4 linked regions of the Homo sapiens genome follow. The protein of the gene in region 2 purifies or fractionates together with the protein of the main gene of each other region. This does not show direct contact. Each region holds a gene or a part of one and is shown on either strand. Other genes may lie near its edges.

Region 1 (7,562 bases), on a different chromosome or scaffold from region 2:
CTTGGTCAGGGAAGCAGAGGCTGAATCATTATTGCAAGGGTCTCAGAAGAGCTCACACTGCTCCAGGGCACAGGAGACACATGTCATCCGGATGCCACATTTGTCTTTGGCAAAAAGAAATCCACATGCTGAACCAAGCGAGGGGCTCAGATCTCTGCAGCGTCTCCCCTCCCTCCAAGCAGGACAGTCCACAGGGGCAGGAGCTTCCATGGGGGGCTGGCAGACAGAGCCAGGGTGCAAGCTGGAGAGCTCAGGACTGGACTACAGATGTTGATGCCACACCCCTGTGGAGGGAGGGGACAGAGCAGCCAAGGGGCCAGAATACCCCCAAGCTCCTCTCCCTGGCATGAGCCACAGGGCCCTTTCTCTCTCTCTCTTTCTCTCTCTCTCTCTCTGCCCTTCTTTTCCTGGCTCCAAGAAGCCATTCAGTCCCTCCCCAGCCCCCTTAGTATTGCAGATTAAGCAAAGAGCTTTTTCACAACTTTGAGTCCTACCTGGCTCCTCATTTCCTTCCTGCCTCCAACCTTCATGTCTTGGGCCCCAGGACAACATTTCTCCAAGTGTGGTCCAGGTTCCCTGTCTGCAGGACAGGGGAAGCTTTATAGGGAAAGTGACAAATCTTGGCAGGGTTTTAAAGGATGAATAGGAGTTCATCAGGGAGATATGGGAGGAGAAAAGCATTCCAGGAAGCAAGGAAGAGCAAGAGCAAAGGCACGGACACAGGAGAGAACACAGTATGTTCTGAGACCTTCCAACTGCTTGGAACTTGCTAGAACAAGGGGAGAGAAAGCAGGAGGTGAGGTCAGCAGACGGTGAACCATAGAGGGTTTTAAGTGTCAGACTGAGGGGTGGGAGACACGGGAAGCAGAAGTTCTTTGTTCTGAGCATTGTTGCTGGATTTTCTGTAAGAAAATAGCTAATACAGGCTGGGCGCGGTGGCTCACGCCTGTAATCCCAGCACTTTGGGAGGCCGAGGTGGGCAGATCACGAGGTCAGGAGATCGAGACCATCCTGGCTAACACGGTGAAACCCCGTCTCTACTAAAAATACAAAAAAAAAAATTAGCCTGGCGCGGTGGTGGGTGTCTGTAGTCCCAACTACTCAGGAGGCTGAGGCAGGAGAATGGTGTGAACTCAGGAGGTGGAGCTTGCAGTGAGCCGAGATGGCACCACTGCACTCCAGCCTGGGTGACAGAGCGAGACTCTGTCTCAAAAAAAAAAAAAAAGAAAGAAAATAGCTAATACATTCCAAGTGCTTACCATGTGAAAGACACCGTGCTAAATGCTTTCCAGATATTAACTCACTTAATCCCTCAACTCTGGGAAGCTGGGGTCATTATCCCCATTTGTCTGATAAGAAAACTGAGGCACAAAGAGGTTACGTTGATTGCCTAAGGCTACACAGCTAGCCCAGGCAGTTAAACACTGCACTCAACAGCCTCTCCTGGACACCGTGCCCCAGGTCACCGGGCATCATGGGCCTGCCCTTGGCCCCTCTGCCTCAGGTCCCTCTGTGCTCACCCCAGGTCTGGCATCCTGCACTTGCTGCCCTCTGACACCTGGGAAGATGGCCGGCCCGTGGACCTTCACCCTTCTCTGTGGTTTGCTGGCAGCCACCTTGATCCAAGCCACCCTCAGTCCCACTGCAGTTCTCATCCTCGGCCCAAAAGTCATCAAAGAAAGTAAGTTTTGTCCCTCCGGAGCTGGCTGCCATAAGACAAGGGGGTAGGTGGAGCAGCTTCCCAAAGGAGGGAGAGAGTTCCTCATCACGGGGGATGTGCATGGCTGAGATCCCAGAACGTGGGTGAACATGAGTGGGAGGTTGTAAAGGTCTGGAGAGTCTGTGATCTCAAGAGTCCACGATTCCAAGAACCCCTTCTTAAATTCCACAGTTCCAAAGACCCTGAGTTTCCACAGCCTGCAGAAGGGGCATGCAGCCACTGCATGCAGTGATGCAGCTGCCTCTCCCACTGCCTTCACCTGAAATCCCATCGTCAGAGCACCCCGTCTTAGTTAGACCCAGTGTGCTCCTCCTCCCCAGAGCAGAGACCCTTGACTGCAAGTGTGGCAGCCTGGGTCCCAGGCACAGTGTATCACTTTCCAGCTCTGGGGCACTGGGCCAGTCCCTGAGCCTCAGCTTCCACCTTGGGACACAAATAAGAGGGCCTTCCTCACTGGGTGGTTGGAATTGACTAGAGCTTTATGAATGCTATGACCATGGTTTCAACCTCAGCACTTCTGATGTTGTGGACCAAACAACTATTTATTATGGGGGGTGTCCTGGGCACTTTAGGATGTTTAACAGCATCCCTAACCCAACTGTGACAACCAAAAAGGTCTCCAGACATTGACAAATATCTCTTAGGGGACAAAATCATCTCAGTGGAGAACGACTACTCTAAAGTCTCATCCCCTTAGAGGGGACTCACCTGTCAGCTCTGGAGGCCACTTGAGCACTTAGAGGACCAGACCTCTGCATTCAGGGGGACTAGGGGCCTGGGTCATGGCCAGAGGGGCAGGGGCAGGTCCTGTGGGACCAACAGGCTCTGTAGCCAGCGGATGGATTCCCAAGTAAGGACGGGAAGCAGAGGGCTCTGAGAGGTTGGAGGGAGGCAGAGGTGGCCTGGATCCACACTGTGAAGCTCAAGCATGTGGAATTTCAGCCAGAAGGAGCTTAGAGATGAACAACCATGCTTTAGGCTCTCCTATAAGGAGTTGTGTACAAGTGGTTGGTTTTGAAGGTGACCCCAGAAACACCTACAGGAGTGTGGGGAGGCAAGGCAGGGAAGGAAAGGCATCCCATGAGGGGTGCATGTCCAAGCCAGTTACCACTGTGGCGACTGAAGCTCAGTCCTGCCTAGCAACTGCATCTATTAGGGCCATTCAGGAGACAGAAACCACACAGTAAATGCCAACAGGTAAGTTTAATGTAAAGAAGTATTACCAGGGGATTGGAAGAATGAGGAATTGGCTAAGAGGGAAAACAGACAGAGCTCTAAAGGATAACCTAGGGATGGAGGGGGTAGCCAAGGACAGAGCAAGTTCAGAGGTAGAGAATCCTCCCCAGCCCTCTTTGTAGAGGGTGTGGTTGAAGCCCACTGTGTGGTGGAGAAGTTTGCTGGCTTGTCCCAGGCCAGAGCTGGTCCACAGTTGGCAATCTGACGCTAGTGGGTGGAGAACTACCTGCCAGGGGGCCAATAAAATTCTCTGGGAAGCTGCCCCTGGAGGAAGGGGGCTGCTGTTAACTCACGGGGAAGCTGTCTCTGGGGAACTGCCTAGAAGCTAGCCAGGGTGCCTGCAGAACTCACTCAGCAAAAGCCACTGGGCAGTGACACCATAGGAACCTGGAAAGAGAAGCACACCAGAGCCATGAAGGGAATCCCCCCCATGCCCCTCCAGAGTCTCCACTGAAAGGGCTTAACACTGTGCCAAATGGCAAAAAAGAAATATTCACTGGGCCCAGTTCCATTACCACAGAGCAGGCAAAGTGGGTGGATTTGCAGCTGAGAGGCTATAACCCAGGAGCTCTGATACACAATGAGGGACACACATCTGAGCCATCCTGCCTGAGGGGTGAGGGAGCTGGGATATTGATACACCAACTCTCACCAATCACTGGCTGAAGTCTGCTCCTGGGGCATCAGCTCTCCAGCACTTCTGACCTGCTCTGCACATGAGCCAGATGGGCTCTAGCTGCTCACAAAAAGCCAGCTGGGACAAGAACCCAGGGCTCTTGACACTTATGCCTCTGTCCTGGCTCCTTCTTCCTCTGCTCAGCACTTGAGGCTTTTTGGACAACACATCCATAGGATATGGATGCCAGACAATTGTTAACAAGTGTGCTTTGGCAGCAAAACAGCCCCAAACAGAGTTTTGAGGGTTCCCTGCCTGTTGGCCCTAGAAATGCTTGCAACTGGCTCAGGGGATGAGTGCAGGTCCAGGTGCTGAGTGCAGTGGCCGACACTCCCCACAGAGGCTGGCAATGCTCAGGGGTGTGAATGGTCCCAGCCTCGCTCCTGATGTGAAAACGACCCATCTGGGCTACTGTCCTCAAGGCTACATCTACACAGTGGGGACTGGCAGGCTGGTCCTGACCTCCACCACAGTAGAGATGGCTACACCCTCGCCTTACCTCAGGGAGCCTCGAGTGATACCCCTCCCCAGCCTGGAGCTCCCACCAAGCCTTCCTTCTTGCCCCTCCTCCTGGGCCCTAATCCCTGGGGTCTGCCTCCAGAGCTGACACAGGAGCTGAAGGACCACAACGCCACCAGCATCCTGCAGCAGCTGCCGCTGCTCAGTGCCATGCGGGAAAAGCCAGCCGGAGGCATCCCTGTGCTGGGCAGCCTGGTGAACACCGTCCTGAAGCACATCATCTGGTGAGTGGAGCAGGACCACACCAGGAGCTAGCCCCTTCCCACACCTTTGCCCGGGACACGCTCTGCATGCTCAGTCAACCAGTCTGCAAGCATCGACTTGTGTCAGATCACAAAGAGTGGATCAAACAAAGCCCCTCCGTCAAGAAGCTCCCAGAATAGTTAACAAGAACCATAAGACAGTGACACAGGAACCCTAATACAACAACCCCAGAGCAAGGCCAGGGACGGTGGCTCAAGCCTGTAATCCCAGCACTTTGGGAGGCCAAGGTGGGTGGATCACCTGAGGTTAGGAGTTCGAGACCAGCCTGGCCAACATGGCAAAACCCCATCTCTACTAAAAATATAAAAATTAGCCAGGCATGGTGGCAGAAGCCTGTAATCCCAGCTACTCAGGAGGCTGAGGCAGGAGAATCGCTTGAACCTGGGAAGTGGAAGTTGCAGTGAGCTGAGATGGTGCCATTGCACTCCAGCCTGGGTGACAAGAGTGAGATTCTGTCTCAAAAAAAAAAAAACAAAAAAAAAAAAACAACCCAGAGCAAGGTTGTCTGGGGTGGCACAGGGAAGGGATGAGGTGATGCTTCTCACTGGAGGTGACAGTGGAGCCGATGACTCAATGCTCACCAGGAGACAAGAAGCAAATGGCATCCAGGTAGAAGAATCAGGCTGGGCAAAGGCATGGAGAAGTGACAGTCGGTCAGAATGGCTAGAGCTCAAACCTCAAGGCAAGGAGTAAGGGATCAGCAGGGTCAGGTCACAGAGGGTCTTATGAGTCAGCTCAAGGAGCTGGGAGTCACCACCTAGAAGAGAAGGCACCATAATAGCATTGTGAGCAGGAGTGGAGGGGAGGGATGGAGGCAAGACCATCTGGAGAGGAGTCGGTGGGCAGGGCCAGGGTCCCGCTGCTGCCTAGGCACCCCAGGGAGATGGAAAAGATAGAGAGGGAGTGGATTTGGGAATAATGAGCCGGAGGCATGATTCTGATCTCTCCTAAACCCCATCCAGGCTGAAGGTCATCACAGCTAACATCCTCCAGCTGCAGGTGAAGCCCTCGGCCAATGACCAGGAGCTGCTAGTCAAGATCCCCCTGGACATGGTGGCTGGATTCAACACGTGAGTGACCCCTCCATCAAGTACAGTAGGCTTGACAGGCTCATCTGCTCGTTCCCCCTCCCCCGCCCCCACCATGCAGGTGTCTGGAAAAGAGAGTTCCGAGCAGAGAGAAGAGCAAGTGCAGAGGCCCTGTGGCAGCAGTGTACTTGCCTTGCTCAAAGAATGGCAAAGACAGGGGAAAGAGAGAGGGGGCATGGTAGGAGATGAGGCCAGCAGGCAGCCGAGGCCAGATCATACAAGGCCTCTTGGGAGAAGATAAGGACTTGGCTTTTGCTGAGTAGGACGGGAGCCAGGGAGGATTCTGAGCAGAGGAGGGATATGCTGTGCTTTCACATTTTTAAAGACTCCTGGCTGCTGTGGGGAAAAAAGACTTTCTGGGGGTAAGAGTGGAGACAGGAAGGCTATCCCAAAGCTACTGCAACAATTCAGGAGGAGATAATGATGGCTTAGACCAGGGTTTGGGGCAGGGAGGTGCTGAGAAGTTGATTGGATTCTGGATATGTTTTGGAGGTAGGTGGGGACACCAGGATATCCCGGGGAACTGAATATGCATGTGTATTCAGGGGGAAAGAGAGAGAAGTCAACGATGACTCCAAGAGTTCTGCCTGCACCACTGGCAGGATGGAGTGGTCAGTAACCAAGACAGGCAAGGCCATGAGAGGAGCAGGTCTGGGGAAGAGCCAGTCCAGTGTTGCATGCGCTAAACTTGAGAAGCCCGTGAGACATCGGAGTAGGGGGCTGGGGGTAAGTTTGGAAGCTGTCAGCAGACGAAAGACGTTTCAACCAAAGAGGAGTCTGAAAACTGAGCCTGGGACATGCTGGGGTGAAGTTGGGTGAAGATGAGGAGAAACCAGCAAAGGAGACTGAGGAAGGAGGTGAGGGCTGGAAGACAGAGACGGACGGCAGGGTTGCTCCAGCCCGAGCTTGCCTGGTGCTCACATGGTCAGGTGCCTCCACCCGCTAGGCCCCTGGTCAAGACCATCGTGGAGTTCCACATGACGACTGAGGCCCAAGCCACCATCCGCATGGACACCAGTGCAAGTGGCCCCACCCGCCTGGTCCTCAGTGACTGTGCCACCAGCCATGGGAGCCTGCGCATCCAACTGCTGCATAAGTGAGTGTCGCTGGCCACCAGCCGGGCTCCCATCCTGCCTGGAAGGAACGCCAGGCAGTGGACTTCCCCCATTTTACAAATGGAGAACGCTGAGGCCTAGAGAAAGAAAGGGACTTATCCCCTCCTGATTCCTGATCTGGGGCTCCTTCCAGGGAATCTGTGATGCCAAGGGAAGTTCAGGACATCAAGGTCAGAAGCAACCATGGTGGGTTTCAGGCATGACACCGGGAGGTGGGGCAAATCTTTGAAGGGGGAGGCCTAGAAACTCCTCCAAACACCAGGGCAGGTGTAGGTGGAGCCAGGGGCAAAAACATAGGCTTTGGGTCAGGCCAACACATTCTCTTCATTTGCTCTCCGGGTGATGATGGCCAAGTGGCCACCCTGTGTCTCACTTTCCTCACCCGTAAAGTGCAGGTAATGACACCTTCCAGGCAGTGGTGAGAAAACTGATCAGACAACAGCCATCAAGCACTCAGAACAGTGCACGCGCATGGTGGTGCCAAAAAACATGGCGCCCCCCCTTCCCTTCTTAGCAGGAGGACAGGGAGAAATGCCAGCTCCCATCATCCCAATGCCCAGCATAAAGTTCCAATGACAACACCCAGCCGCTGCTTTCTGATAACTCTTTGCCACTGCCTACACCTGGCTCAGGGGCTACTCCCAGCCCCGTCTCTAACACGTCCTGTGACCTTGGGCAGGTTCCTTCCTCCCTTAGACTCAGCCTCCCCCTCTGTAAAATAGAGGAAGGGGTGATCATCTCTGACCCTTCCTAATGTCTCTCGTGCTCTCTTCCCTGAAAGGCTCTCCTTCCTGGTGAACGCCTTAGCTAAGCAGGTCATGAACCTCCTAGTGCCATCCCTGCCCAATCTAGTGAAAAACCAGGTGAGTGGAATCAGGGCCTCTCTGGCCTGTGGGCATTGCGCCCCCTGTGGGGCTTGGGTGGAACTGCAAGTTGGTGCTAAG
Region 2 (7,562 bases):
GATGCTGACTGGGAACTGGCGCTGGGCCCTCCGAGTGAGTCCAGCTTCCTTTTCTTCCCTCTGCTTTCCCTCTGGACCGGCAGGGACTTTCCAGCCTTGGGTGACCTTAGCCACTTGGCGTAGCACCCGGCGCCATTAGGGGGACGGGGGGTGGTGGTCAGGCATCGGCAGCTTTGGACATGTGGGGCCTCATAGGGAGCATGGGGTGTGGAAGTGGTGGCCGTGGGCTCAAAAGCTGGCTGCTTAGTTTACCAGCTGTGTGATCTCAAGCAGATCACCTTCTTCTTCAGAGCCTCAGTTTGCCTGTCGGTAAAGCGGGGGTACTAAATGCTACCTAAGGCATCTTGAGGATCAGTGAGATGAGAGATGGAAGTTCCAAGCCGCAGGGTCAGGGTGTAGAGTAGGCCCTTGAGGACTGGCAGCTAGGCTTGCTCAGCAGTTCAGCAGAATGCTCAAGAAGATGCCGGGCAGGCCCCGCTGGGGCTCCAGCCCTTGTGTTTCCAACGTGGGCATGGAGAGGGACCATTCTGAAGAGGAAGGAACTCCATAGTGGAGGGTGCTGAGCTCAGCCCTGGGAGTGCAGCTTGGTGGGAATGCAGGCTGCGCGCAGACCACTGTGGAGCCAGCCCAGTGCCGGGGAGCTGGCGTGTGAAGTGCTGAAGCCAGATTTGGAATTTTGGGGGTGGGGTGGGCTTCAAGGAGGCAGGTCTGACCTGGCTTGAATAAACCTTCTCATGGTCTCAGCTGTTTGAAGGCTGCCCCAAGGTGGGTAGTGAGATCCCCGTCCTTGGGGTTTGAGCAGAGGGGCCGCTAGGAGAGGATGCCAGGGCAGGACTGTGTGGCAGATGGAGGCCTGGGCCAGGGAAAGATCAGCTCTAGGACAGCAAGTACTCAGGAGGCAGGGCCAGTGTAGCGAGGGTCCCTGTTCTCAACCGTCTCAGGCCCACTGACCTCAAAAGACTGGTGTCTGTACTGGAAAGACGGGAATTACATGAAGTCCCAAAGAGTCTCCACTCCCTGGAAAGGCTGCAGTGGTGAGGGCTGAGAAACAGTGGTACATCCTGCTCTGTGGATACCAGCATCCAGGAATCAGGTCACCCCCACTACCCCCAGGGCTTGGAAACCAGAGGTCAGCCACTGGCTGATACTGTGGCCAGTTGCCCCCGGGGGTCCCTTGGGCTGTGATAATATGCGGCCCTGAGCTTCCTGGGCCCTCCTGTCCCCAGGTCATGCCCTGCCTGGAGGCCGTGGCCTTGATCCTGCTTATCCTGCTGGTTCCAGACCCACCCCGGGGAGCTGCCGAGACACAGGGGGAGGGGGCCGTGGGAGGCTTCAGGAGCAGCTGGTGTGAGGACGTCAGATACCTGGGGAAAAAGTGAGTATCCCTGCTACCCCCTGCAAGGCACAGAAAAGCCCGTTTGTCTGCCCCAGCATCATTGACCCCCTCTCTCCACCTCCAGGGAGCCCTCCCTGGTTGTCCCAGTGTTCACAGCCCTCCTCTTCCTCTGAGATCGCACTTACCAACTGAAGTGCCTCTCCCTCCCTTAGGGCTCAGCCTCCATCACCTTGCCATGTGACAGAAATATGGACAGAGTGGGAGGGAGATGGCGTGAGCCCCAGCCTTCCCTCTGCCCTGCCCATAAGTGGCTCCAGCACTCAGAGCCTCAACGTCCTTTGTATTCAATGGATGGAATTCTCCAGCCTTGCCCCCTTCTCCGGGTTGCTGGGAGGATGCTGGGAATTCATCACTCACCTCTCCAAGCCTCATGGCGTGCATGATCCTCTGTGCCAGCCATGCTGGGGGAGGCAGGCAGGAGTCAATTGCTGGTCCCAGGCCTCATGATTCACTGCAAGGCAGGGCATGGACAGGATTCAATTCTGTTACTGAGCTGTGAAACTGGTCGGGAGGACTCAGAGGAAGACAGGGCAGGCAGGGACAGCTTCCTGGAGAATGTGATGCTGGATGGGGGCCTCCCAGGATGGGGAGATTTGGTCCTGCAGAGAGGAGGGAGGAGGAGGCAAGGTGTGTGAGTTGGGGGGGTCTCAGAAATGTTGGGGAGGCTGGAGCTCAGGGTGCTGCCAGGAAGGATCTGGAGGCTGGAGCTTGGGGTAACCTGAGTGTCTTCTTCTTCGGAGCCTCAGTTTGCCTATCTGTAAAGAGGGGGTAGCAAATGCTACCTATGGAATCTTGAAGGTAATGAGACAAGATGGGAAAGTTCCTAGACTGCCCAGGAGTGGGGAGGAGTGGACAGGCCCCTTCAGCCCCAGCCCTCTCCCAACTCCAGCTGGGGCACCTCGTCTTGCAGCTGGAGTTTCGTGTGGTCGACCCTCGGAGTGACCGCCATGGCCTTTGTGACTGGAGCCCTGGGGTTCTGGGCCCCCAAGTTTCTGCTCGAGGCACGCGTGGTTCACGGGCTGCAGCCTCCCTGCTTCCAGGAGCCGTGCAGCAACCCCGACAGGTGAGGGCATCCGGGGGCCCTGGGCACCTGGCCCGGCTCGGGGGCTCTTGCTGAGGAAGTTCTGAGGTTCTGAGCTCCAAAATTCAGTTTCTTGGGGTGGGGCATTTGGTGCTGTGTGAAGACAGTGGAGCTCAGGACCCAGATGGCAGCAGGAGGCCTGGCTCTGGCTCTGGCTGAGCCTCTGCCACTCTGGGTGGCCATGGCCAACTCTCTTGTCCTCTCTGGGCTGAATTCCCCATATCTCCACTCTTGGGGCTGCTGTGGGCTCCAGAAGGCACTGGTTGGAAATGGGGGTGAGGCTTCTGTGGGGCTGTGGGATGAGAGGAGCCTTAGGCAGCCACCCTTTAGAGGGGCCTGTAGCGTCTTCTGTGAGGGCATCCCATTTTACAGATGGCAAACTGGGGCCTGGGAGGCCTTGTTACTTCGCTGGTTTTGGGATTTCACGTGTGTGGGAAGGCTGCCGGGAGGGGAGGCGCGGGCACTCTGCCCTCAGGGCACGCCCTCTCCCGCTTCCTGCCTGGCTGTCTGCTGCCCGGCTGGGCTCCACTTCTGTTCCTATCGCCTTTGACCCTGTTCTCCAAGAGCTCCAGTGACCACTTGATGCTGAGTCAAGGACATCCTTCAATCCTCCCTTCCTTCTCTCCTCCTCCTCCTGGAACCCTTCACCCCGGCCTCCTCCCTGCCTCCAGGGGCTGCTCTCCAGCCTCCTTGCAGTCCCCTCCTCCTCTCTGACCCTGTCCTGGTGGGTCCTGGGGGCTCCTGGGGATGCTATCTTCTTCCCTGGAGCTCCATCCTCCCCCAGGGTTTTGGCGACACTCGTCCTCTGCTGACTGCACCCACGCCTACCTTCTCCTTCCCTCCTCCTCCTCCTTCCTCCTCTTTTCTCTCTTCTCCTCTCTTCTCTTCTCTCCTTCCTTCTCTCTTTCTTTCTTTCTCCCTCCCTCCCTCTCCCTCTCCCTCTCCCCTCCTCTCTCTCTCTCTCCCTACCCCTCCCTCCCTCCTTCCCTCCCTCCCTTCCTTACTTCTCTTCTTTTCTTTCTTTTTTGAGTCAAGGTCTCACTCTGTCACCAGGCTGGAGTGCAGTGGTACAAACACAGTTCGCTGCAGCCTCGACCTCCCAGGCTTAAGCAATCCTCCCACCTCAGCCTCCCAAGTAGCTGGGACCACAGGCACACGCCACCATGCCTGGCTATTTTTATTTTATTTTATTTTATTTATTTTTTTTTGAGACAGAGTTTCACTCTCGTTGCCCAGGCTGGAGTGCAGTGGCACAATCTTGGCTGACTGCAGTTTCCACCTCCCAGGTTCAAGTGATTCTCCTACCTCAGCCTCCCGAGTAGCTAAGATTACAGGCATGTGCTACCATGCCCAGCTATTTTTTTTTTTTTTTTTGTATTTTTAGTAGAGATGGGGTTTCACCATGTTGGGCAGGCTGGTCTCGGACTCCTGACCTCGAATGACTGGCCCGCCTCAGCCTCCCGAAGTGCTGGAATTACAGGCGTGAGCCACCGTGCCCGGCCGAACTTACAGATCCTTAAGGGCTCTCTTGGCTGTAAGAGTCTGTGATGCTGGGAGGGCCCTGTGTGGATGGAGGGAACATGAAGGGCTTGGTAGCTGGGGCATGTCCTCTGGCTGCCCCTCCTGCTTAGGGGCTGGCGGGGGTGCATTTTCAGGCAGCCTGTCTAAATAATCAATCCTAAGTCTCATGAATATCTCGAGAACCTGCCAAGGTCAGCCCAGACCAGGACTCAGAGGCAGCTAGCATACATCCGGGATTTGGGTCATTTGACTGGGCTGAGCCAGACCTCGCACAGCTTGGAAGCCTGGGAAGGTTTAGAAAGCACTTCTTCTTCTTCTTCTTTGTTTTTTTTTTTTTTCCATTTGAGACAGAGTCTTGCTGTGTTGCTAGGCTGGAGTGCAGTAGCACGATCTCGGCTCACTGCAACCTCGGCCTCCCGGGTTCAAGCGATTCTCCTGCCTCAGCCTCCCAAGTAGCTGGGACTACAGGCGCACACCACCACGCCCAGCTAATTTTTGTACTTTTGGTAGAGAATTTAGAGAATTCTCAGTCATTTGTGCAAAGTGAGGGTGGGAGAAGAGAGGGCAAGCTACATCGGTCAGCGTGGACCAGTCCCGCAGAGTCATCAGTGCTGGTCAGGAGCTTGCTCAGAGGACGACAGGGAGCTATTGAGAGGTTGGAAAGATCCTGGTTGGACTGGTGTTTTCAAGAGTTCACAGTGGGCACAGTCTCAGCGTTCCCTTTGAGCTCCTTTATTTGTTTTGTTTTGTTTTGTTTTTGAGACGGAGTCTTGCTCTCTTGCCCAGGCTGGAGTGCAGTGGTGTGATCTCAGCTCACTGCAACCTCCACCTCCCGGATTCAAGTGATTCTCCTGCCTCAACCTCCTGAGTGGGCTGGGATTACAGGTGCCCACCACTGTTCCCAGCTAATTTTTGTATTTTTTTTTTTTTTTAGTAGAGACGGGGTTTTGCTGTATCGGCCAGGCTGGTCTTGAATTCCTGACCTCAAGTGATCCACCCACCTCGGCCTCCCAAAGTGCTGGGATTACAAGCTTAAGCCACCTTGCCTGGTCCCCTTTGAGCTCCTTTAAAAGGGGGCTGGAGGTTGCACAATGGACCAGGAGGGTGAAGAAGTATATTCAAATCCTGGTCTGTAATTTACCAGCTGGGTAATCTTGGCCTTGACTTTTCTCAGCCTCACCTTGCTCACCTATCCATCTGGGAATTGTTGCCCAAGCTGGAGTGCAGTGGTATGATCATAGCTCACTGTGGCCTCGAACTTCTGAGCTCAAGCGATCCTCCCGCCTCAGCCTCCTGAGTAGCTGGGACTACAGGTGCACGCCACCAAGGCTGGATGATTTAAAAATTTTTTGTAGAGACAAAATCTTTCTGATCTGGAACTCCTCCCACCACAGATCTCCTGCCACAAAATGCACTCCTGGGGAGCCTTTGTGGAGGTTATTTTGGAGGGACAGGTCTCCACAGGAAGGATGTACAAGGGGAAGCCAAGCAGAGTAGAAGTGGCTCTAAAAGTGGGTGGGAAAGGGACGGAAGTCAGGTAGGGGCTGCCTGAGAGGGGTTCAAAGACGGGGAGTGGAAGGATGGGATTCAAGGAGGGAGGGCGTGTAGAGAGCCCAGACAAGGGCCAGGTGTATCACAGGGGCTCAGTAAATACATGTTTGCTTCCCTCCATTCCTCTTAGTACTGGGAGCTGGAAAGAGAGAAGGTTGGGGCCAGGGTGGGACCCTGGAATTCAGATTTTGAGTGGGGCAGTTTTGGGGGGTGAAAGGGTAAGGGTCAATGGAGATGAGGCAGGCTGGGACCTGGGGTGCAGGGTGATCACCCACATGGCCAGTGGGATCCCCAGGATGAGACAGGAGATGAGGCAGGAAAGGGGGTAGGGGAGAGCAGTGGGACATTGGTCCCTGGGAGTATCAGTGAGGAGGGTGGGTAAGGTTCTGGGTCAGGTCAGGGGCCCACAGCCATATTCCCTGTAGACACCAGATCATGCACTTGAGCCGAGGGGCTAGACCTGGGGCTGGGAGCAGGATAAGAGTCCCTATGCTAAGCTCACCCAGCTGACCAACCCTTCTGTGCTCTTCCCCATCAGCCTGATTTTTGGGGCACTGACCATCATGACCGGCGTCATTGGGGTCATCTTGGGGGCAGAAGCTGCGAGGAGGTACAAGAAAGTCATTCCAGGAGCTGAGCCCCTCATCTGCGCCTCCAGCCTGCTTGCCACAGCCCCCTGCCTCTACCTGGCTCTCGTCCTGGCCCCGACCACCCTGCTGGCCTCCTATGTAAGTGAGAGCCTCTATGGAGGTGGGGACAGGGTTGGGGGGCGAGGAACTCCTGTTTCCACAGGCTCATGCTGCGCCCGGCCTTTATGTACAATTATGTTGATCACTCCTTCTGAGTAGAGCTTGTTATCCCCATTTTACAGATCAGTAAAGAGAAGCTTGGCTGGACGCGGTGGCTCATGTCTGTAATCCTAGCACTTTGGGAGGTCAAGGCCGGCCTGGCCAATATGGTGAAACCCTGTCTCTACTAAAAATACAAAAAATTAGCTGGGCATGGTGGCAGGCACCTATAATCCCAGCTGCTTGGGAGGCTGAGGCAGGAGAATCGCTTGAACGCGGGAGGTGGAGGTTGCAGTGAGCTGAGATTGCGCCACTGCACTCCAGCCTGGGCAATGGAGCAAGACTCCATCTTGGGGGAAAAAAACAGAGAGAGAAGCTTACCAGGAGTTCCACAGTGAAGAAGGGGCAGAACTGGGATTTGAGCCTGAGCTTTTCTGACTGTAAAAGGTGTCCTCTGAGCATTGGGTTAATGTGTTAATTTGAGAAAATAGGACTCATTTATTGCCAGGGCATATTGTGGGCCCAAGAAGAAATAGAGCAATTCTCCCCAGGTTACAGAGGAGGGAAGCAAGGCCCAGATTGGTTATGGCCAATGTGGACGCTGCTTTAAGGGCAATAATCATGGTAATATCAAGTGTTCCAAATCCACATCCCATCACACCCCTTCATGGGCCTCACACTCTGGCTGTGCCAGCCGTGTGGGCACACACACTTCCCAGACTTTGCACGCGTCCATTTCTTCCACCAAGAACACCAGTTCCTCTTTTGTGCATCCTGAAATCCTCCTTCTGCAAGACTCAACTCAAAGTCCGCTTCCTCCAAAAGCCTTCCCCTACCACTCTATCCTCACACCAGAATTCACGTTCCCACTTGGGCTCAGCACCTGTTTGGGTCCCATGAGGCACCAAGGTTTATGGGGCCTGTCCACAGACAGGGAGCCCAAAGGGCAGGACCAGAGCCAGAGGGTCCCTGTGTGCAGCCGTGTCCCTGGCTCCCCAAAGCCCCAGCCCTGCCTGTCCCCCAACATGGGAAAGGGCTACTGCTTCTGGGAAGATGACGCCAGCCCAGCCACAAGCAGAGGGGCTAGACCTCTCCTCCTTTCCCAGCTCCATGGCCCTGGGCCCTGTGGCTGCAGACACAGATGCGCTTGCACATGTTAACCAGGTTTACTGAGCAGACTGGACTTTGGAAAAGTAAACCAGCCACAACTTTATTGTCCTCACAC
Region 3 (7,562 bases), on a different chromosome or scaffold from region 2:
AGAGTGTGTTTGCCTTTCGTATGAATAAATAGCTCAGGCATTTGATGCATCTTTTCCTTATTCAACAAATACTGATTGAACACTTTGATTCCATGTGTCAGTGTTTAAACTACTTGCTGCGTCTTTAGCTCTATCTCTTCTGCTGAATAAGAAATTGTAGAGAGATATTTCAGATTTTGCTAAATCAGTTTACAAGCTTTGTTCTTTATTTATCATTCCAAATTAAGCCAGAATAAAATATGTTTTTTAATTGCATTGACATAAACTAAGAAACCAATGGGAGTGATTTAGATTTTGAGAAATAGGAAATTAAAATAGAAACTTGGACTCATTTTCATCAACCTTACTGGTTCTAGGGAAGTCATTGTCATTACCTCTCTTGCTGATGATATTTGGAGCCATATCATCCTGTGTCCAGTAGTTACTTGAATTTTAATGGCCATTTTTGAAGCTGTCAGGGTCTTGAACAAATGACTAAGTGATTGTGAGGAAGCATGGCTCCTGCAACTCTACATCTAAGTAGGTTTTGACTTTGAAATAGCAAGTTCATATCTGTTAATTTCTTTATGATTTAGCATGTAAATACTTTCTAGCTGTGATTATGTCCCTTCACTCATTTTTAGAGTGTTTGTCATCAAATAGAGTCTTAGGGAACAGTAAGCATGAAGGGATATACACTCTATTCAAAGACTGCTGGAATCTCATTTGCTCATAATAAATTAATCAGAAAAACTTTCTTCTGTCTACTGTTACATTTTATGTTTTCTGGTAATTTACCAAACTTTGAAAGGATGAATAGGTGTAGAGCAATGAGAGTCTAATTAGGAAAAAGAGGTATGGAGACATTTTAAATGATTGACGTTCTGTAAGTCGTAATTTAGTTTTACTAAAAAGTCAGAGGCCCAAAAAGTTTAATTTTTTCATGAATGCCCTATTATAAGTAAACATTGAGATGTATATAATTATTAGGGGAGGAGGGCCAAAAGCATCCATCATGATGGAAGAAAGGACTATCAAAACGATTCTACCAGAATTCTATCCAGATTATGAACTCTAAGCAAGTATAACTTTTTTTTTAGTAATGACCTTAATTACTACTCTCAGTTTCCCAATATTATAAAATTGACTTGTTCTTTAAGAATCATTTAGATACATAAAGCTTTGTGGGAACCTATGTATGTAGAAACAACAGCTAGAGAGAGAGATTGAAATATTTTTGGTTCTCTTAAAAATTAATGTTTTATTTTTTTTCTTCTGATTCCAGCATCTTCACAACTATTTCACAGTGACTCTTGGAATTCCTGCTTGGTGTTCTTATGTCTTTTTCGTCATAGCCACCTTGGTTTTTGGCCTTTTTATGGGTCTGGTAAGAGATAATACCAAACTTTTTCTATCTTTAAGGCAAAATGAATTTCATGTACAAATAAAAGGCAGCCAAGAAAGAAAAAGCACATAAAAAATAGTATTTTGTGCAATCTAAGTAGTTAAATAGCATTTGCTTGTTTGAGACTGCTTTCAATGGTAATGTGAGATATAACAGAAAATTTATTAAATTCTTATCCCCTAATCCTATCCCTTAAGTATTTTGAAGATGTGTACTGCCTATAGACAGTAATTAAAAAAAAAAAAAAAAAGAGACCTTACTAGAATTGATAGTTTCTAAGACAACTGAGTCAGCTGTGATTTCACACATTGCCTGCTTAATTAGAAACACTGTAGTGATAAGGCCAAGGTTTTGAATTTGTTCCTTGTGTAGATGCAAGATTGTTGTTGTTGTTGTTCTTATCCTCCAGTTAAACTAATCCTGACTAGCCGCTTATGCATACACTCTGGTTTTCCTGAGATAGATAATGTAGTTAACACAACACAATTATTCTTTGGGCATGAAAATCAGTATGCAGTATATATCTCCCCAGGTATTTTCTCCCCAGGTATTTCAGGCAAGAGTTGAATAATAAATTTATTTATCTAACTACATAGGCAACTATAAATGTTCAGCATGTTGTACTTCTTGTTATTTTTTATTTCTCTTAACCTAATCTTGATTAGTTTGATTGCATTTTAAACCCTAATTAAACCAAAAAGTTTTTAAAAACCTTTATATTGTATACTAAACACATAGTTCCTAAACACTATAATGGGAATAATTGATGATTACTAAAAATTTATGTCAAAGAACAGACTTTAAGGTAAGATTATCTTAAAGTCTGTCCTTATATTTTATAATGAATTTTGGCTCTTTAGCAAGTTCTTTTTAAAAATGTTAACAATTGACTTATAGTAAGTCACAACCCCAAGAGGCCAAGGAGGCTCGATTTGACTTTTCTATGAACATGCTTAATACATATCATGGCTTATCTTTGAAACTTGGCTCCTGATGTTAACTTCAGGGATAAGAATGGGACTTACTTAGATATCTGTATATGTCCTTCATTAGGTCCTGGGTATGTTCTGTTCTGTTGCATTAATCTTTTTGCTAATTAACATGTCCCCATTGCTCCCGTCTAAAGGGATTTGACACCGGATATAAATAGAATGTGATTGTCTGTGCTTCTCCCATCTGTTGTCTGGTGCGAGATTTTTCTAGCAGTGTATTTTGGGGCTACCATAGTGTGAGGTTCTTGTAGGGGGAAACAGTATGAGGTCCCAGGCGAGTCAATGATGGAGTTATAGGGAATGTAGGTTGTGTGTGACCCTGTTGGAAGACTAGTGAAAATGCTTAGAGTTTTAGAATATTATTTTTGATGTTGACTTTAAGTCCATGAAATTGAGTCAGGCCTGCCTGCCTATGCCTTAGATTCCTTTGGAAACCTAGATTCAGATAATCAGTGTAGAAAGGTTATTGGAGGCTTGGCCTGAAGAAAGGAGAGAGTGATTCTAGCCTGTTCAAGTGATTAAGTGAGATAGACTACCCTTCCTTAATAAGAAAATAACTTTATTTAACAAAATATTATTAACTTTATTAACGAAATAATAATTTCAAAGCATATGAATCATAAATTATAAAAGATTCATACATTTACTGTTAATAAGTTTCCAAAAAATAACAAACACATATCTGTGTTCAAAGTACCTGTTTTAGGCTGGGCACAGTGGCTCAGGCCTGTAATCCTGGCACTCTGGGAGGCTGAGGCAGGTGGATCATTTGAGCCCAGGAGTTTGAGACCAGCCTTGGCAACATGGTAAAACCCTGTCTCTACAAAAATACAAAAATTAGCCTGGCATGGTGGCACACACCTGTAGTCCCAGCTACTCGGGAGGCTGAGGTGGGAGGATCACTTGAGCCCAGGAGTTCGAGGCTGCTGTGAGCCATAATCTTGCCACTGTACTCCAGCCTGGGTGACAGAGCTAGACCCTGTCTCAAAAAAAAAAAAAATATATATATATATATATATACACACACACACATATATATACACACACACACAGAATGCCTTTTCTATAACTGTTAAGTATATTAAAGTAAACACACAACTGCTAGAATTTTTGCTTTTAGTAACCTTTAATTTCTTATGTACTTTCAACTTCTGTTTTGTGAGAGTTACACAATTTGAAACAGCTGCATTCTTATCCCAATTTAAATCACCTATTCCAGAATGACATTTTTGTTAACTTCTAGGATGATAGAAAAGTGTTTGTCAATTGTTTTCATGTCTTAGCCACATAGAGAATATTTACGTAGCATGCCAGGGTAAAGGAATACTGGGGGACAAAGCTGCCTGAGGCTGGCTCTGAATGGCCCAGACTCCTTGAAGGATGACATGTCTGTTGGGAAGCTAGGATCCAAATTTTTTTTTTTTGTAATCTCACCAACTGAGTCAAAATTAAATGAGTAAATTAGATAGACTAAACCTGAGATAAAATTGTTGAGTGTACAATTTTCCAGAATAGAAGAGTAGGATAAATTAAGATGATGGATATGGTAATTACACTGATTTGATCATTATACTGTAATACATGCATTGAAACATCACATTGTACCCCATCAGTATATATAGTTACTGTGTGTCAATTATAAATAAAAAAGAAAAGTCAGAAAGAAACATTATGTCCTAGAATAGCCAGTAAGCATATAACTATCACATTAAAAGGTAAGGTTTTCAAACCTGAATCATTTCAGATGGAATGTTTTTTTTTCTCTTTGTTGTTCAAATTGATTTAATGGCTTAGAGCTTATTGTTCTCCAACCCACCAAGCCTTCCTGCAACTCATTGCCCCACCTCCTGGGTCTCCTCAGTTTGACATTCAGGGCTTTCTCTGGATCCAAGACCCCCATGGAGATCCAACTTAGTTTAGCTTAGAGCAGCCAGGCGGTGCTGCTGTTCTCTCCTGACTGCCCAGGGCATTAAATGCCTCCTCCTTCAAAGTCATCCTCAATCCTTCCCCACCCACAGCTGGCTGTAACATTTGTGAAATGTTCTTCCATTCAATCAGGGGTTACCCGTTGGTGAGGGGCAGCCTATATACAGAGTGGTTTGGTTGTCCAGAATAGTGTATTTAAAAAGACTTGGTTCATAGTGTCTATCTTCTTATACCTGCTTGGTTCATCTATTTATAGTGGGTTCTCTGTAGACTTTTGGCTTTGTGACCACTTTCTAAATTAATATTTTCCTGTATTATGTCACATTTGAAAAGTAGGAAATTCTTAATTATATCCTTGTCTCTTGTGAAGACTTTTGACTAGCTGCTAATTATTAGTCTAAGAATATCTGATTATAGAAGCAAGGCCTAATTTTGAGGTCCTTTGGTAATAAATGTCCTATCTATTCACTGTAAAATCACTTTTTTCCTTCCAGGTCTTGGTGGTAATATCAGAATGTTTCTATGTGCCACTTCCAAGGCATTTATCTGAGCGTTCTGGTAAGTACGATAAGCTCCTGTGATCTAGAGTGTTTTTGGAATTCTGTGATGTGCCTTTTTGTGCTCATATAGATAGTGGGTTTTCTCTGTGATTTACTAGGTGACCAAATAATCACTACCAAATTTCTTAAAATGTGTTTTCTAGGTAGATTTGAACAAAATTATTTTTCTCCCTTTCTTAAATTAGGAAATATTTCATTTTGGCAATTGCTTTTTCTTTTTAAGTATGTGCTCTTCATTAATCAGTGTCATATTTTCCTTTATTCTAACTAGAACTAGAAGGGAAGAAGGGAAACTCAATATATATTGCTTCTGCTGTGTGCTAGTAACTCTTCTAAGTCCTTTAAAAGCAGTCTTCCCAAATCCTTGCACTGCTCCACACTTCTTCTGGGGCCAGGTGCCTCTGGATTTGCATGTCTTTATTCCAGACTATTTTTGAGACTGCATAAAGATGTTCATGAGACTTTCTAATTGTTGAATTTTATGTGGGAGTTTAAATAAGCTCATGTTTCTTTTTAGTTCTTGAAGTTTTTGAGGCTTTGAGACTTCCATTGATAATTTGAAAATATGATTCTTAGATTTCTTAAAAGTAATAGAAACCCAATATCAAGGATTTTAGGAAAACAAATGAAAATTTATTAGCTCACATAACTGAAAAGCCCAGGGACATTCTAGCTTCAAGCACGGCCCAAGTGATGTTAGGTTTCTCTGTCTGTGTGGCTTATTCATAAGAGCTGTTGATAGTCCTTGCGCATTTTCTCTGTTTAAAAATCCCTGAAGAAAAAGAGGCTGTTTCTCCTGACTCTGGCCCAGAACCTCTGTGGAGTACTTTGAGTGGCTTAGCATGTCACATTTCTGAACCAATCACCATGACCAATAGGGTCACTGAGCTTTCTACAAGACACAAAATACCGAGCGTAAAGGACCCTTTGCCCTTGCTGCCCACATGCCCTGCTGAAGTCATTATGGTCCATGAAATCTCCAGAGACAGGTGGAGAAGCCCTAAATGGGGCTAGGATGCCAACCAGAGAATCTGTCCTATATGACCATAGTTTCAAGATAGAAAAAACTGTCACTTACCCTCTATTTTTATTTCACAGCTAAACACACTCAATTGATTACCGAATTACCATTGTTTATTCAGAGGATATTCCTCTTTCTTCCCTCCATAGAGCAGAATCGGAGATCAGAGGAGGCTCATAGAGCTGAACAGTTGCAGGATGCGGAGGAGGAAAAAGATGATTCAAATGAAGAAGAAAACAAAGACAGCCTTGTAGATGATGAAGAAGAGAAAGAAGATCTTGGCGATGAGGATGAAGCAGAGGAAGAAGAGGAGGAGGACAACTTGGCTGCTGGTGTGGATGAGGAGAGAAGTGAGGCCAATGATCAGGGGCCCCCAGGAGAGGACGGTGTGACCCGGGAGGAAGTAGAGCCTGAGGAGGCTGAAGAAGGCATCTCTGAGCAACCCTGCCCAGCTGACACAGAGGTGGTGGAAGACTCCTTGAGGCAGCGTAAAAGTCAGCATGCTGACAAGGGACTGTAGATTTAATGATGCGTTTTCAAGAATACACACCAAAACAATATGTCAGCTTCCCTTTGGCCTGCAGTTTGTACCAAATCCTTAATTTTTCCTGAATGAGCAAGCTTCTCTTAAAAGATGCTCTCTAGTCATTTGGTCTCATGGCAGTAAGCCTCATGTATACTAAGGAGAGTCTTCCAGGTGTGACAATCAGGATATAGAAAAACAAACGTAGTGTTGGGATCTGTTTGGAGACTGGGATGGGAACAAGTTCATTTACTTAGGGGTCAGAGAGTCTCGACCAGAGGAGGCCATTCCCAGTCCTAATCAGCACCTTCCAGAGACAAGGCTGCAGGCCCTGTGAAATGAAAGCCAAGCAGGAGCCTTGGCTCCTGAGCATCCCCAAAGTGTAACGTAGAAGCCTTGCATCCTTTTCTTGTGTAAAGTATTTATTTTTGTCAAATTGCAGGAAACATCAGGCACCACAGTGCATGAAAAATCTTTCACAGCTAGAAATTGAAAGGGCCTTGGGTATAGAGAGCAGCTCAGAAGTCATCCCAGCCCTCTGAATCTCCTGTGCTATGTTTTATTTCTTACCTTTAATTTTTCCAGCATTTCCACCATGGGCATTCAGGCTCTCCACACTCTTCACTATTATCTCTTGGTCAGAGGACTCCAATAACAGCCAGGTTTACATGAACTGTGTTTGTTCATTCTGACCTAAGGGGTTTAGATAATCAGTAACCATAACCCCTGAAGCTGTGACTGCCAAACATCTCAAATGAAATGTTGTGGCCATCAGAGACTCAAAAGGAAGTAAGGATTTTACAAGACAGATTAAAAAAAAATTGTTTTGTCCAAAATATAGTTGTTGTTGATTTTTTTTTAAGTTTTCTAAGCAATATTTTTCAAGCCAGAAGTCCTCTAAGTCTTGCCAGTACAAGGTAGTCTTGTGAAGAAAAGTTGAATACTGTTTTGTTTTCATCTCAAGGGGTTCCCTGGGTCTTGAACTACTTTAATAATAACTAAAAAACCACTTCTGATTTTCCTTCAGTGATGTGCTTTTGGTGAAAGAATTAATGAACTCCAGTACCTGAAAGTGAAAGATTTGATTTTGTTTCCATCTTCTGTAATCTTCCAAAGAATTATATCTTTGTAAATCTCTCAATACTCAATCTACTGT
Region 4 (7,562 bases), on a different chromosome or scaffold from region 2:
GTTTGTAAATGTTGTTCTCTTTGCCTTGGCACAACTTTCCCCCCTTCTCTTTCCTTTCTTGCTTAAACTGCCTCCTACTCATCCCTGAAGTCTCACTTCCTTGGCAGGCCTTCTTGACCTGCCCATGCTGGGTATGAGCCCCTGTTGCGTACTTCTTTAGCATCCCAAGACTTCCCCTTTCATAGCGGGAATTGGATGTCATACAGCAGCAAATGATTTCGGGAACACAATTTGCATTAAGCAAACCACTATCTTGAAAGTAACACAGCTTGAGTAGGAAAAAAGTGTTTAAGGTGGCTTTCTGCTTTGTTTAGCACAGCAGTGGGTGATGTTTCTGATAATGTTTTTGAAGAGTTGTGCTTTTTTTGGTAATGCTCATGGAGCTGGGAAAAGAAAGGCTTTGCTCTTGAGCAAAAACTGAGTACAACTAAAAGCTGGACTTGCTTAGTGGTAGGAGAACTTGATACCTTGTTGAAATTCTAGCGGGAAAAATGAATTTAGTATTTTGAGTCTGGAACTCTGGTCCCTTATTCCTTTTTGCTCCTTTTGAAAAGTGTCTTTTATTTCATGAGTTTGATAATAGGAGGTTTCTTAGAAATGAATTATTGGGTTGGAGCAGAACAGACTCTGTTAATCTGAGTTTATATTTTTTATTACTTCTTCAGAGTTTCATGAAGGCACTGCCAGTGCTTTGCACAGTATCAGGTGCTTAGTAAGCACTTGAAAATATGTGCTGAATGAATGACTTTTTACGAGGAAAGGGCAACTTGATATATTTATGTGATTGCAGGGATGAACCTAAAGAGAGAGGTGGAGGTTGAAATAGAAGGGATGATTGTTGGAGCCAGAAATCTTAGAAAGCAAGAGTCAATGGGACCAAGAGCACACAGGTGGAAGAATTGATCGTGAAAGAGTGCTGGCCAGGCGGTGGCTCATCCCTGTAATCCCAGCGCTTTGGGAGGCTGAGGTGGGAGGATCACTTGAGGTCAGGAGGTTAGGGCTGCAGTGAGCCATAATTGTGCCACTGCACTACAGACTAGGTGACAGAGTGAGATCCTGTCTCTAAAACAAGAACAGCAAAACAAAGGGTGCAGTTGGAAAAGTTTAATTTGGTCTGATTGTGTGAGGTTAATTCTGACTTTTTGAGTAATGTTCATGATCCCTTTTTGGCTTTTCCTTTTGTCACTGCTGATTGCTGTCTTCATCAGGCTGAGCTTTGAGAAAGGCAGAGAGAAGGAATGGAGTCTGTGTGCCTACTGAGGAAAAGACTAAAACTGGGGAATCGCAAAAGCTATGTTATGGGTTGTTTCTAAGAAGTGATGGCTCAGAAGGAATTTGGCTTATTTATTTTTAAATTCCTTTCTTTTTTAAAGAGTTCTCACTCTGTTGCCCAGTCTGGAGTACAAGTGCAGTGGTGCAATCATAGCTCACTGCAACCTTAAACTCCTGGGCTCAGGTGAGCCTCTCACCTCAGCCTCTTGGAAATTGGTTGATTAATTAGGGTTTATAAACAATGGAACTCCTGACTGACTTCATTTTTCTTTTTTTGAAACCAAGTCTTGCTCTGTCCCCCAGGCTGGAGTGCAGTAGTGTGATCTCAGCTCACTGCAACCTCTGCTCCCCCCAGGTTCAAGCAGTTCTACTGCCTCAGCCTCCCGAGTAGCTGGGATTACAGGTGCCCACCAGCACGCCCAGCTAATTTTTGTATTTTTAGTAGAAACGGGGTTTCACCATGTTTGTCAGGCTGGTCTTGAACTCCTGACCTCAGGTGATCCACCTGCCTCGGCCTCCCAAAGTGCTGCTGGGATTACAGGTGTGAGCCACCACGCCCAGCCACATTTTTCTTTTTCTTTCTTTTTTTCCTTTTTCTTTCTTTTTTTTTCTTTTTCTTTCTTTTCTTTTTGAGACTGGGTCTCACTTTGTCACCCAGTCTGGAGTGCAGTGGCGTGATCTCAGCTCACTGCAGTCTCGACCTCTTGGGCTTTAGACATCCTCCTGCCTCAGTCCCCCACGTAGCTGGGCCTGGCTAATTTTTTTGTATTTTTTGTAGAGACAGGGTTTAACTATTTTGCCCAGGCTGGTCTTCAACTCCTGAGTTCAAGCAATCTGTCCACCTCAGCCTTCCAAAGGCTTAGGATTACAAGCATGAGCCACTGTGCCTGGCCATTTTTCTTTTTTCTTTTTCTTTTTTTGAGACAGTCTTGCTCTGTTGCCCAGGCTGGAGTGCAGTGGCGTCATCTCGGCTCGCTGCAAGCTCTGCCTCCCAGGTTCACGCCATTCTCCTGCCTCAGCCTTCTGAGTAGCTGGGACTACAGGCGCCCGCCAACACTACAGGCGCCCGCCACCACGCCAGGCTAATTTTTTGTATTTTTAGTAGAGACGGGGTTTGACCGTGTTAGCCAGGATGGTCTTGATCTCCTGACTTTGTGATCCACCTGCCTCGGCCTCCCAAAGTGCTGGGATTATAGGCATGAGCCACTGCGCCTGGCCGCCATTTTTCTTTATTAGAAATTTGTAGTTCAAATATTGCTAGAGAACAATTTTTACCATTTGTGAGTCAGCTAATTTTTAGAAGTCAGATATCAAGTGCACACTGTTCTTCTCATACTTACAGCGGGGCAGCCAGTTAGGCAGGTGAATCAAAGCTGTCTTATTCTAAAACACTTCCCTTGCCTACTAGTTACACATTCTCCTGCCTGCTGTCTAATCTCAGTGCTTTTACATGGTTGCACAAACTCTGAATTCCCTTGAAGATTGGCTACTCTCTCACACCTTGGAGTCTTCATGTGTTGGATATACTCCATGCCTACCATATCTATTTGGGAAACATCTTCAAGACTAGACCGTAGTCTCCTTGGGCAAAGTTAAATGCTCCCCCTTCTCTCATTTCTTAGTTCTCTATATTCTTTTATTAGAATATGAACCACATTGTTTTGTAACTGTCTACTTGTCTGTTCTGTGTAGCTCCTTGAGGGTGGTCTTTTTTTTTCTTTGTTTTCCCACCACCTACCTACGGGACCTGAAACATGTTAGATGCTCAGTAAATATTCAGTAAACACAGGAAAACTGTTCCCTTTTAAAATGTCAGCACCTTAGTTTATTCCAAACCCCTCATTTATGGCTGAGGAAACACTGGGCCAATACAGTGTTGTGACTTATCTGATGTTACAATATCTGCTAGTGTCATAACTGGGACTCAAATCCAGTCCTTCTGATTCTCGTTTCAGCACTGCCCTAATTTACCCATGTGACTACCTGTAGTGCTTTCTTCTTATGATCTATTTGAGATCAGTGGCACAGAGGGAATCGTCTTAATTTTGATGGCTAGGAGGGAGTGGATGTGTTATAATAGGTAGGGTCATTTTGGGACTTGAGGCCTTTAAAACAGTGTCTGGGATCCAGGGATCAGACTTGAAAGGTATTTGCAAATCTCCTGAAACTGCTAAATTTTATGTACGTGTGTTCCCAGGTATTTCGTTTCTAGGTGATTCTGTAGCTTTTGTCAGTTTCTTAGTGGATTTGTCTGTGATCCCTCAAAAGGTAAAGACCACTGCTTGAAGGGAAAGCAGCCTTGGGATGGGTGCCCCAATGGGGAATGTATACCTAGAAATCATATTGTTTTGCCTTTGACATGTGTTTATAGATTACTGATATCTATAATTACGGAAATCCAGATAGTTGCGTTTGTCTCCTAGCTTTTCTAGTTGCCTCTTTTTTGATTTCTTGATTTTAACCAGAATCTTCTTTTTTTCTTGAGAAGGGGTCTCATTCCGTCACCCAGGCTGGAGTGCAGTGGCACGATCGTAGGTCACTGCAGACTCAAAACTCCTGGCTCAAGTGGTCCTTTGCCTCAGCCTCCCGAGAAGCTGGGACTACAGGCACACACCACCACGCCTGACAAATTTCTTCTTCTTCTTCTTCTTTTTGTTGTTGTTCTTGTTGGCCAGGCTGGTCTGGTCTTGAACTCCCGGCCTCAAGTGGTCTGCTCACCTTGGCTTCCCGAAGTGGCGAGATTACAGGCATGAGCCACCATGCCCAGCCCTTAACCAGAATTTTGTTTTGTTTTGTTTTTTGAGACAGGGTCTCACTCTGTCACCCAGACTGGAGTGCAGTGATGAGATCACGGCTCACTGCACAGATGCACGCCACCATGCTTGGCTAATTTTTTATGTTTTGTAGAGACAGGTTCTCACCATGTTGTCCAGACTGGTCTCGAACTCCCGGGCTAAAGCGATCTTCCGGCTTCACCCTTCCATAATGCTGGGGAGCCACAGTGCTTGGCCAACCAGAATCTTAAAAGCCCTTTTTACTTTTTCCAGATAGTTACTCTGCAGAGAATTTCTGATTCCCAGTTGGAGAACTGTTACAGCTCTCTCAGTCCCCTGCTGTTCTTTTAGCTACCTTGTCTTTGTCCTCTTACCTGTCCACTCTCTACTCCCCTTCTTCCCTTTGGTCTCCAAATAGTCCAGATAAACCAGAGAGATGGACAGATAAGGTCTGGGTACGCGAAATTAAAATTAACATAGTGTGCTCTTCACTTTCTTGAATAAACGTTACGTATGATTTGTTTCCCTTGGAAATCCTCATCTAGATTCTCTACTCTCTATTCCTTAACTTAATGCCCCATTAAGGTAGTTTTTTCTTAATGGAAAGCTGTTGAGAGTCAGAGGATATTTAAACCAACTAATAAACTGAACTTTTAATAATACCACCCTTACTTTGGATAAGAGTGATTAGCCATATACTAAATCCTCAATCAGTTTAGCATGTAAAATTTAAGACATAGCAGCTGATAACTGAGGAAGAGATACATTTCCACAGGCTAACTTTAAAGAATATAAGCTCTCACTTTCCTGAGTAGAAGAAAACTAAACTTTTCTGTTCTATGCTTTTTTTTTTTTTAATTTTTATTTTTATTGATCATTCTTGGGTGTTTCTCACAGAGAGGGATTTGGCAGGGTCATAGGACAATAGTGAAGGGAAGGTCAGCAGATAAACAAGTGAACAAAGGTCTCTGGTTTTCCTAGGCAGAGGACCCTGAGGCCTTCCGCAGTGTTTGTGTCCCTGGGTACTTGAGATTAGGGAGTGGTGATGACTGTTAACGAGCATGCTGCCTTCAAGCATCTGTTTAACAAAGCACATCTTGCACTGCCCTTAATCCATTTAACCCTGAGTGGACACAGCACATGTTTCAGAGAGCACAGGGTTGGGGGGTAAGGTCACAGATCAACAGGATCCCAAGGCAGAAGAATTTTTCTTAGTACAGAACAAAATGAAAAGTCTCCCATGTCTACTTCTTTCCACACAGACACGGCAACCATCCGATTTCTCAATCTTTTCCCCACCTTTCCCTGCTTTCTATTCCACAAAACCACCATTGTCATCATGGCCTGTTCTCAATGAGCTGTTGGGCACACCTCCCAGACAGGGTGGTGGCCGGGCAGAGGGGCTCCTCACTTCCCAGTAGGGGCGGCCGGGCAGAGGCGCCCCTCACCTCCCGGGTGGGGCGGCTGGCCGGGCGAGGGGTTGACCCCCCCACCTCCCTCCCGGACGGGGCGGCTGGCCGGGCGGGGGGCTGACCCCCCCACCTCCCTCCCGGACGGGGCGGCTGGCCGGGCGGGGGGCTGAACCCCCCACCTCCCTCCCGGACGGGGCGGCTGGCCGGGCGGGGAGCTGACCCCCCCCCACCTTCCTCCCGGACGGGGCGGCTGGCCGGGCAGAGGGGCTCCTCACTTCCCAGTAGGGGCGGCCGGGCAGAGGCGCCCCTCACCTCCCGGACGAGGCGGCAGGCCGGGCGGGGGCTGATCCCCCCACCTCCCTCCCGGAAGGGGCTCCTCACTTCCCAGTAGGGGCGGCCGGGCAGAGGCGCCCCTCACCTCCCAGACGGGGCGGCTGGCCAAGCGGGGGGCTGACCCCCCCACCTCCCTCCCGGACGGGGCGGCTGGCCGGGCGGGGGGCTGAACCCCCCACCTCCCTCCCGGACGGGGCGGCTGGCCGGGCGGGGGGCTGACCCCCCAACCTCCCTCCCAGATGGGGCGGCTCGCCTGGCGGGGGCTGACCCCCACCTCCCTCCTGGACGGGGCGGCTGCCAGGTGGAGACGCTCCTCACTTCCCAGACAGGGTGGCTGCCGGGCGGAGGGGCTCCTCACTTCTCAGACGGGGCGGCTGCCGGGCGGAGGGTCTCCTCACTTCTCAGACGGGGCGGTTGCCAGGTGGAGGGTCTCCTCCCTTCTCAGATGGGGCGGCTGGGCAGAGACGCTCCTCACCTCCCAGACGGGGTCGCGACCGGGCAGAGGCGCTCCTCACATCCCAGACGGGGCGGCGGGGCAAAGGCACTCCCCACATCTCAGACGATGGGCAGCCGGGCAGAGACGCTCCTCACTTCCTAGATGGGATGGCGGCCGGGCAGAGATGCTCATCACTTTCCAGACTGGGCAGCCAGGCAGAGGGGCTCCTAACATCCCAGACGATGGGTGGCCAGGCAGAGACGCTCCTCACTTCCTAGACGGGGTGGCGGCCAGGCAGAGGCTGCACTCTGGGCACTTTGGGAGGCCAAGGCAGGCGGCTGGGAGGTGGAGGTTGTAGCGAGCCGAGATCACGCCACTGCACTCCAGCCTGGGCACCATTGAGCACTGAGTGAACCAGACACCGTCTGCAATCCCGGCACCTCCGGAGGCCGAGGCTGGCGGATCACTCGCGGTTAGGAGCTGGAGGCCAGCCCGGCCAACACAGCGAAACCCCGTCTCCCCCAAAAAAATACGAAAACCAGTCAGGCATGGCGGCGCGCACCTGCACTCGCAGGCACTCTGCAGGCTGAGGCAGGAGAATCAGGCAGGGAGGTTGCAGTGAGCCGAGATGGCAGCAGTACAGTCCAGCTTCGGCTCGGCATCAGAGGGAGACTGTGGAAAGAGAGGGAGAGGGAGACCGTGGGGAGACGGAGACCGTGGGGAGAGGGAGAGGAGGCAGAGGGAGAGGGAGAGGCTTTTTTTTTTTTTTCTTGAGACGGAGTCTTACTCTGTCAACCAGGCTGGAGTGCAGTGGCACGATCTTGGCTCACTGCAACCTCCACCTCCCTGGTTCAAGTGATTCTCCTGCCTCAGCCTCCCAAGTAGCAGGGACTACAGGCATGCGCCACCACACCCAGCTAATTTTTGTATTTTTAGTAGAGATGGGGTTTCGCTGTGTTGGCTGGGCCAGTCTTGAACTCCTGACCTCAGGTGATCCACCCACCTTGGCCTCCCAAATTGCTGGGATTACAGGCGTGAGCCACCGCGTCCAGCCTGTTACATTCTTAATTGGAATAGCATTGCCCTGCAGTGCCATTATCTGAAATAGCTTTTAAGAATGAATGTAATGCCATTTTAAATGTATTTAAATGTTGTGCCGATTTAATGTTCTATGTACGGTACAGTACTACTAATGGTTCAAGAAGTTGTTTTGACTTAACAGTGAAATCCTTGCTTTTAAAGATCATAGATACCTTTAGACACCTTTAAGATGAAACATGTTTATGAGAGGAAATGTCCGCACAAATACAATCCCCCGCAAACTTAGCATGTGGT

The links.
Region 1: the proteins of SPNS3 (region 2) and BPIFB1 purify together in Homo sapiens (affinity purification with mass spectrometry; one large-scale study listed by BioGRID and IntAct). This does not show direct contact.
Region 3: the proteins of SPNS3 (region 2) and TMX4 purify together in Homo sapiens (affinity purification with mass spectrometry; one large-scale study listed by BioGRID and IntAct). This does not show direct contact.
Region 4: the proteins of SPNS3 (region 2) and PTPN2 purify together in Homo sapiens (affinity purification with mass spectrometry; one large-scale study listed by BioGRID and IntAct). This does not show direct contact.

The regions. Positions count from the first base shown.
Region 1 is NC_000020.11:33,284,508-33,292,069, forward strand, and holds part of BPIFB1 (BPI fold-containing family B member 1 precursor), read left to right. Parts: intron 1-1,525; 5' UTR 1,526-1,566; coding exon 1,567-1,681; intron 1,682-4,233; coding exon 4,234-4,375; intron 4,376-5,377; coding exon 5,378-5,485; intron 5,486-6,449; coding exon 6,450-6,599; intron 6,600-7,399; coding exon 7,400-7,481; intron 7,482-7,562. UniProt on the Homo sapiens protein: May play a role in innate immunity in mouth, nose and lungs. Binds bacterial lipopolysaccharide (LPS) and modulates the cellular responses to LPS.
Region 2 is NC_000017.11:4,446,929-4,454,490, forward strand, and holds part of SPNS3 (protein spinster homolog 3), read left to right. Parts: coding exon 1-34; intron 35-1,226; coding exon 1,227-1,375; intron 1,376-1,760; exon of another isoform or gene 1,761-1,979; coding exon of another isoform or gene 1,980-2,023; intron 2,024-2,306; coding exon 2,307-2,459; intron 2,460-6,087; coding exon 6,088-6,277; intron 6,278-6,420; coding exon of another isoform or gene 6,421-6,528; exon of another isoform or gene 6,529-7,562. UniProt on the Homo sapiens protein: Sphingolipid transporter.
Region 3 is NC_000020.11:7,981,092-7,988,653, reverse strand, and holds part of TMX4 (thioredoxin-related transmembrane protein 4 precursor), read left to right. Parts: intron 1-1,264; coding exon 1,265-1,366; intron 1,367-4,796; coding exon 4,797-4,860; intron 4,861-6,032; coding exon 6,033-6,403; 3' UTR 6,404-7,562.
Region 4 is NC_000018.10:12,872,658-12,880,219, reverse strand, and holds part of PTPN2 (tyrosine-protein phosphatase non-receptor type 2), read left to right. Parts: intron 1-7,562. UniProt on the Homo sapiens protein: Non-receptor type tyrosine-specific phosphatase that dephosphorylates receptor protein tyrosine kinases including INSR, EGFR, CSF1R, PDGFR.